Homo sapiens: one gene and its partner. The gene in region 1 interacts genetically with each later gene. Each region holds a gene or a part of one and is shown in the gene's direction. Other genes may lie near its edges.

Evidence for each region.
Region 2: changes in USPL1 (region 1) and NF2 together harm fitness more than expected from each alone (negative genetic interaction), as found in Homo sapiens cells (one large-scale study listed by BioGRID).

Annotation. Positions count from the first base shown.
Region 1 is NC_000013.11:30,631,127-30,635,147, forward strand, and holds part of USPL1 (SUMO-specific isopeptidase USPL1), read left to right. Parts: coding exon 1-348; intron 349-3,088; exon of another isoform or gene 3,089-3,288; intron 3,289-4,021. UniProt on the Homo sapiens protein: SUMO-specific isopeptidase involved in protein desumoylation. Specifically binds SUMO proteins with a higher affinity for SUMO2 and SUMO3 which it cleaves more efficiently. Also able to process full-length SUMO proteins to their mature forms.
Region 2 is NC_000022.11:29,690,633-29,694,132, forward strand, and holds part of NF2 (merlin), read left to right. Parts: intron 1-3,500. UniProt on the Homo sapiens protein: Probable regulator of the Hippo/SWH (Sav/Wts/Hpo) signaling pathway, a signaling pathway that plays a pivotal role in tumor suppression by restricting proliferation and promoting apoptosis.

The DNA of each region.
Region 1 (4,021 bases):
TTTTGGAAGCTGATACTGTTGACATGGCTACTACAAAAGATCCTGCTACAGTTGATGTCTCTGGAACTGGCAGACCTTCCCCTCAAAATGAAGGATGTACATCTAAACTGGAAATGCCACTGGAGAGCAAATGTACATCATTTCCCCAGGCTTTATGTGTCCAGTGGAAAAATGCTTATGCTCTCTGTTGGTTAGACTGTATCCTGTCAGCTTTGGTGCACTCGGAAGAGTTAAAGAACACCGTGACTGGACTGTGCTCGAAGGAGGAATCTATATTCTGGCGGTTGCTTACAAAATATAATCAAGCAAATACACTTCTATATACCAGTCAATTGAGTGGTGTTAAAGGTTGGTACTAATATTTTATTTTTATTTACTTATTTATTCATCTGGAGTCAGGGTCTCATTCTGTCACCCAGGCTGGAGTGCAGTGGCATGATCATGTCTCCTTGCAGCCTTGACTTCCCTGGCTCAGGTGGGCCTCCCACCTCAGTCTCCCAAGTAGCTGGAACTACAGTCGTGCACCACCATAGCCAGCTAAGATAGTGAGATGGTGGCCCCACTGTCTTGCCCAGGCTGGACTCGATTTCCTGGGTGCAAGCACCCTTCCCGCCTCAGCCTCCCAAAGTGCTGGGATTACAGGCATGAGTCACCATTCCAGCCTACTTGTCTTTAATTCTTAAAAATATTAATGTTGAGTTTTGTCTCCCAGCATGTGGGAAAGATGTCATCCATTGCTTCTGTTTCCTGGAGGCCTGGGAGCAAGGAGCCCAGGAACAGTATCACGAAGCTTGAGATAATACCAGTTACATTATCCTGACTGCCCAAAAGGCAGTTTTTTTGTTTTTTTTTTTTATACTTTAAGTTCTGGGGTACATGTGCAGAACGTGCAGTTTTGTTACATAGGTATACGTGTGCCATGGTGGTTTGTTGCACCCATCAACCCGTCACCTATATTAGGTATTTCTCCTAATGCTGTCCTTCCCCAACCCCTCCATTCCCCATCAGGCCCCAGTGTGTGATGTTCCCCTCCCTGTGTCCATGTGTTCTCATTGTTCAACTGTCACTTATGAGTGAGAATATATGGTGTTTGGTTTTTTGTTCTTGTGTTAGTTTGCTGAGAATGATGGTTTCCAGCTTTATCCATGTCCCTGCAAAGGACATGAACTCATCCTTTTTTATGGCTGCATAGTATTCTATGGTGTATATGTGCCACATTTTCTTTATCCAGTCTATCATTGATGGGCATTTGGGTTGGTTCCAAGTCTTTGCTATTGTGATTTTTTTTTTTTTTTTTTTTTTTTTAAGACAGAGCCTCACTCTGTTGCCCAGGCTGGAGTGCGATGGCATGATCTCAGCTCACTGCAACCTCCGCCTCTCAGGTTCAAGCAATTCTTCTGCCTCAGCCTCCCAAGTAGCTGGGACTACAGGCGCCCACCACCAGGCCCAGCTAATTTTTGTATTTTTAGTAGAGACAGGGTTTCACCATGTTGGTCAGGCTGGTCTTGAACTCCAGACCTCATGATCTGCCTGCCTTGGCCTCCCAAAGTGCTGAAATTACAGGTGTGAGCCACCATACCTGGCCTAGGCAGTCTTTTTCAAAACTCTAAGACTGTGCTTGTGTCTCAGGGTGTCAGGATAATAGTGGTTAGTTTTAAGTGTTTAAACTACTGAAAAGCAGAATGAAGAAGTGAGTAAAAATCACCCATAATCACACAACCTCCTAAGATCTCTTGGCACAATAAGGGATATGTTTTTCATTTTATTCTCTGTAAAATAGGATACTTATGAACCCACCTCCCAACACAGGAAGAATTAAAACATTCCCAATAACTTACATTTACCTATGCGTTTCCTCCCATCCCATTCTCTACCTCCCCCCCATAAGTAATCATTATCTGAAATGTGTTTCATCATTCCATCTTTTCTTAGTTTTTCTTACATGTGTTTATCTAAACAGTATACAGTAGTCTCCCCTTATTGTAGTTGTACTTTTCTTGGTTTCATTTAACCCGAGGTCTGAAAGTAGATGAGTATAGTACAGTAATATATTTTGAGAGAGAGGGAGACCACATTCACATAACTTTCATTACAGCATATTGTTATAATTGTTGTATTTTATTATTAGTTTTAATCTTACTATGCCTAATTATAAAACTTGATCATAGGTATGTAGTTATAGGAAAAAGCATAATATATAAAATGTTTAGTTACTATCCAAGGTTTTAGGCATCCACTGGGGTCTTGGAAGGTATCCCTCTCAGATAATGGGGGATGGATGGTACTGAACCCTGTATATACAATGTTTTTCCCTATACATACATAATTATGATCAAGTTTAATTAAGAGTAAATTAAATGTGGGCCAGGTGCAGTGGCTCACATCTGTAATCCCAGCACTTTAGGAAGCTGAAGCGGGCAGATCTCATGAGGTCAAGAGTTCGAGACCAGCCTGGCCAACATGGTGAAACCCCATCTCTACTAAAAAATACAAAAATTGGCTGGCTATGGTGGCACACGCCTGTAGTCACAGCTACTCTGGGAGGTTGAGGCAGGAGAATTGCTTGAACCCAGGAGGTGGAAGTTGAACAATCACTTGAACCTGGGATCACGCCACTGCACTCCAACCTGCCTGGGTGATAGAATGAGACTCTGTCTCAAAAAAAAAAAAAAAAAAAAAAAAGTAAAGTAAATGTGGCTCAACATGTTGCTGTCAGTTGGAACATTTGTTTCTGATCGTGTCTTCCACCCACAAATTGAATGCTTTTTCCATCTTAACACTTATCAGGCACTGTGGCCATAACTTGAGCAGTTGAGATGCAACAGCAAAATTAGCACAAATTTCTTTTTCTTTCTTCGCAGTTTCATGGATAAGAGATTTGTTCTTAGATCTCAGCAACCTCAGCATATGATTTTTTTCTTTAAGTTGAGAACTTTGACCTTTTTACTTAGAGAAGCATTTTACAGCTTCTCTTTGGCATATCTGAATTGCCAGCATTACTATGCTCGTGCTTTGGGGCCATTATTAAGTCAAATAAGGGTTGCTTGAACACAAGCACTGCAATACCATGGCAATAGATCGCATCACCAAGATGGCTGCTAAGTGAACCACAGGCAGGAGTGTAGACAGCATGGACACATTAGACGAAGGGAAGATTCACGTTGCCAGTGGAACACAGCAGGACAGCAAGAGAGTTCATGATGCTACTCAGAATGGCATGAAATTTAAAGCTTATAAATTGTTTCTGGAATTTTCCGCTTAATATTTTCAGACCACGGTTGAGTTCAGGTAACTGAAACCATAGGAAGCAAAACACGGATGAAGAGGGACCACTTCGTATTGCCTAATTTAGTTTGTTTTGATCTTCTGGGACCTTTTTTTCTTGTTGTAAAAATTTATGGGGCTGTTTATAGTTGTGGCTCATTGATTTTTCATTGCTACATAATACTTCCATTTTGTAAATATAACAGAATATTCATCTACCTGTCAGTGGACAGTGGGGTTTTTTTGCCATTATAAATGCTGCTGCTGTGACCATTTGGGGGGCAAGTCTCCTGGGGCACAGTATGAGTTTCCCTTCTGTATAACAAAGGAATGGAAAATTATAGACTTTCGTGTCCAAATTTACAAGATAATGACAATTGTTTTCCAAAGTGGTTGTACCAAGCAATTCTCCCATTAATAGTGTATATAAGAGGTCTTCCTGATCCATATATTCTTCTTGGTTTATTTTCACACTTTTGAGATTTTTGCTATTTGAGTGGTATAAAATGGTCTGTGATCTTGATTTGCCGTTTCCACATTTTGAAGAGGTTGTCGGCTCTATGTGTATATATTGCTCATATTTGTTCCCTCTTCTGTGAAATGCCTTTTGTATCTTATCCCTATTTGTTCTGTTCTGTTGATTGTCACGTTTTAATTGATTTGTATGAGTTTGTTCCTTGTATCATTGTTGCTAGAGTTACATCAGATGTGTTGCTGAATCTGCTCCCAGTTTGCAGCTTGTGTTTTTACTTTTTAA
Region 2 (3,500 bases), on another chromosome or scaffold:
TCCTCAGAATGGAATTGGATTAGTGACAGACTTGAGCAGCCGGTTCAGTCGAGAGAGAACTTAATTCCTCCTGTGTTATTCACACGGCTGATTCTAATCAGATGTGAAGAGACAGCTGGAGGAGAGCAGCGGGTCAGCCCATGCCTGGTGCGGAGGCTTCATGTTCTTGTAGGCATCTTCAGGGAACTGGCAGGAGCGCTTTGGGTTGGAGACTCTGAGCAGGGCCCTTGGGTTTATAGCCTGCCCAAGGAACTGGGCCTGGCTGCGGGACTCCCATGGTTGGACCTTGTCTAGATTCAGTGAAAGTTTTGAAGGACAGTGCATGACAGACGTCACTGGTCAGGTTCACCAGAGCTTGGCTCACTTGTCTTCAGAAGGATTCAAAGGCAGTTGACCAGACTTGGCAAGTCCCAGACTGGTGCAGCCACTGTCCTCGAGACCCTGGTTGTACACCCTGAGGTGCTTCTGCTTCATTACCTGCTGAAATTTGGAGACCTCTTCTTCCTGGATAACCTTCAAGATACTCATTGTGCATGCGAGGAATTCCCCGCCCTCCTGGGGGGACTCCACTCCCCAGGCAGGCAAGGTTGGGCAAGGGGAGGGCTGTTGCTGGATTGCCAAAGGGAGCATGGACATTTTTGTTTGGAATTCAGGGTGGGAATGGGACTCACCAGAGTGGCTTCAGTGCTCAACTCACAGTGCAACATAGGACAAGGTGAAGGCCTTCTTGGGAGGCCTCTTCTGGCTCTAGCAAGCAGGTGTTGCTGGGCAGTGTAGAGGGACCCAGGCCGGTTGCTGAGCAGGAAGATGTACCTAACACTGATGGGCCTGCACACCTTAGGGTATGAGAGCATCGCAGGGGAACCAGGAAACTTGTTAGCTGGTTTTCATGTGTTTAAAAAGAAGACTCGGAGGCAGAGTTTATTTTATGAAGGGCTAGCTTTTTGCCATTTCTTCTGAGCTTTTGCCTTTTCCTTTATGAATACTTCCTGCCTATGGGTGTACTGTAAATGTAACAGCCAGTGAGCTTTCTAGAAGCAGCAGATGGTGAAAGATCCACAGGTGAGGAGCCTGCCCACTGGAGGGGCGAGACAGTGCCCAGGCAGGGCGTGCAGGTGGCAGAGCTGTTTGCATGCTCCGCGGGGTGGCTTCCCAAGCTCTCTGTAGAAAAACTGCCTGAGGGCAAATGGCTCCACTGAGCTGCTACCTGCAGGAAAGAAGCTCAAGGGCTCTCCTCGTCTCACTGCCTGCCTTCTTCACCTGCTGGGAGGAGGGCATTGTGGTGTCTGAGATAAAGGATACCCCCAAGGTGGAAGCAGAGCCATGGGGGTGGCCTCCAGCAGCAGGGAGGAGCATTGTGCAGTAAATTCTGACTCCGGGGCTCCTGTGGGGATTGGAACCCATAGGAATTGCACAATGAGGGTAAAGGATGGGGCGGCAGCAGCCAGGTCTGTCTAAGGGGCGAGCAGCAGTGGCCGAAGGCTCCCAGGGCCCTCGGGCAGCAGCCCTTGCTGACCAGTGCAGCCAGGTCGTGGCTGCCTCCAGCTGGTGGGTCTGCCTTCCCCTCTGACCGCCTCAGTGCCTTCTGGAGGACTGTGGCTCTCTCTCCTGCCCAGTGGCTGTGGTGCCTTCCTACTTCTGTGTGGGCAGACTGATTTCCCTCTCTACCTTTACTTGTGGCTGAGGCGAAGCTCCTGCTCTTGCAAGATAAGAGGTGGGGCTGAGGCGCTGCAGTGCAGCTCAGGTGGGGCTCAGGAAGCACCCCACCCACCCCAGAGCACTCTGCATCCTAATAAGCACATGCTCGAGTCACTGGAATCTGGTGCTGCTGGCAGTGCCAGAACCCTCCCCTAGCACCTCGAGGGGACAGCCAGCATGCTCCTCGGGTGGAGGATCCAGGAATTCTTGGAGCCAACATTGCACAAATGGGCAGGAGCCTCTCAAGGCCCCCACAGCCTGGGCTCCCTGCCTGGGGAAGTGGCCAGGCTTCATAGGGGCATCACTTGGCCCGCCTGGTAGGCATGGAGGCCAGTGCCATACGTGACCTTGTTGTTGCCTGCACCCCTTCCTAACGAGCACCCTGCTCCCCACTGGAAGGAGAGGGGCCAGGGCTCCTCCCTCCCCAGGGAGGGGAGAAACGTGATGTTGCTATTAGCAATAACAGCTGCCGAGTTCCCACCATGCGCCAGGTGCAGTGTTGAGTGCATCACACGCGGTTCCCAATTCCTCTGCCTGTCACCCCACGAGGAAGGGGCTGCCATCACGCCCGCTTCACAGTGAGGAACTGAGGCTAGAGGGGAGCAAGTGACCTGCCCAGGGCCACACAGCTGGTCAGTGGCCCAGCTGGGCCTTGCACCAGGCAGCTGACTGTGCCTGTATCTGACTCAAAGTGGCTGTTCTTTTCAGAAACCTGAGCGGAGATACTGGGCTCACATGCTTTCATTTAAACCCTCTCTCATTTTTGCCCCAGTAGTTATCTGGCAGCTAAATCTCTTCCTCCTTTCTTCCCCAGTGACCATTCTGGTTCCCATCATCACAGGGCACATAACTCCTGGCCCTTCTCCTCTGATTACATTTAGGGAGAAGCCCATCCTGATGCAGCTCCCTTCTAGAGGGAGTTCCATTTAGGCAAAAAAGCGCTCTCCATTCCCATCAGAACCGGGCTTTCCAAAGGGCTCTGAAATTGGTTCCACTGAAGAAGGCAGCTGAGCTGCCTCCCCACATTCCGCTTGTTAGTCGGGAACTTCAAGGCCAAAAGATTTGGCAGGATTTAAAGAGTTGCTCTCAAGCTGTCTCATTCTGAGCACACTAATGCTGTCTGTCTTCTGATGGTGAAGTGGTGGGTTTGGAGTCTCCCTCCCCTGCCCTTTATGGAGCCGCCGATAGTACCGAGGACTCTTCACATGCAGACTCGAGGGGTCCAGAGAATGGGCCAGACCATCTTGCCTGCCCCATGGCAACCTCCAGAGGAAAGAGGCTCAGAGAGGTCAGGGGTGTCTGCAGTGAGCTGCTGATGGCAGAGAGTGAGCTCTCGGACCTTCTCAGCCGGGTGTGGAGCTCTTGCCTCTCCCGCGAACCTCAGTTTAGTTATCTTCATAGCCCACGTCCTGGTCGCTTAACAAACATTGAGCTCCTGATCGGCACATAACACTAAGCCAGATATTTGGGGGATATGAAGATGAATGGTACAGACTCCCTCCCCTCCACCCCCGCACTCCTGTGGGAAGTCCCGGAGCTGGAAATGGAACACAGTCACACCCAAGGCATTGATTTCAGGAGTCAGCAGAGAGCAGGGAGTAGGGAGAGTGCTGGCTCCAGATGCTTCTATCCAGGGAGATGCTGGGAAGTGGCCCAGAGTCAAGGGCTTAGGAGGTTGCAAACCTCACTATGCCAAGAGCTCGGTCCCTGATCCACCCCATCCCCTTCCACATCTCCCTGACTGTCCTTCTTTACATTTGCTGGGCAGAGTGCCACCTGTGTGCACCAGCCCTCCCTGCCTG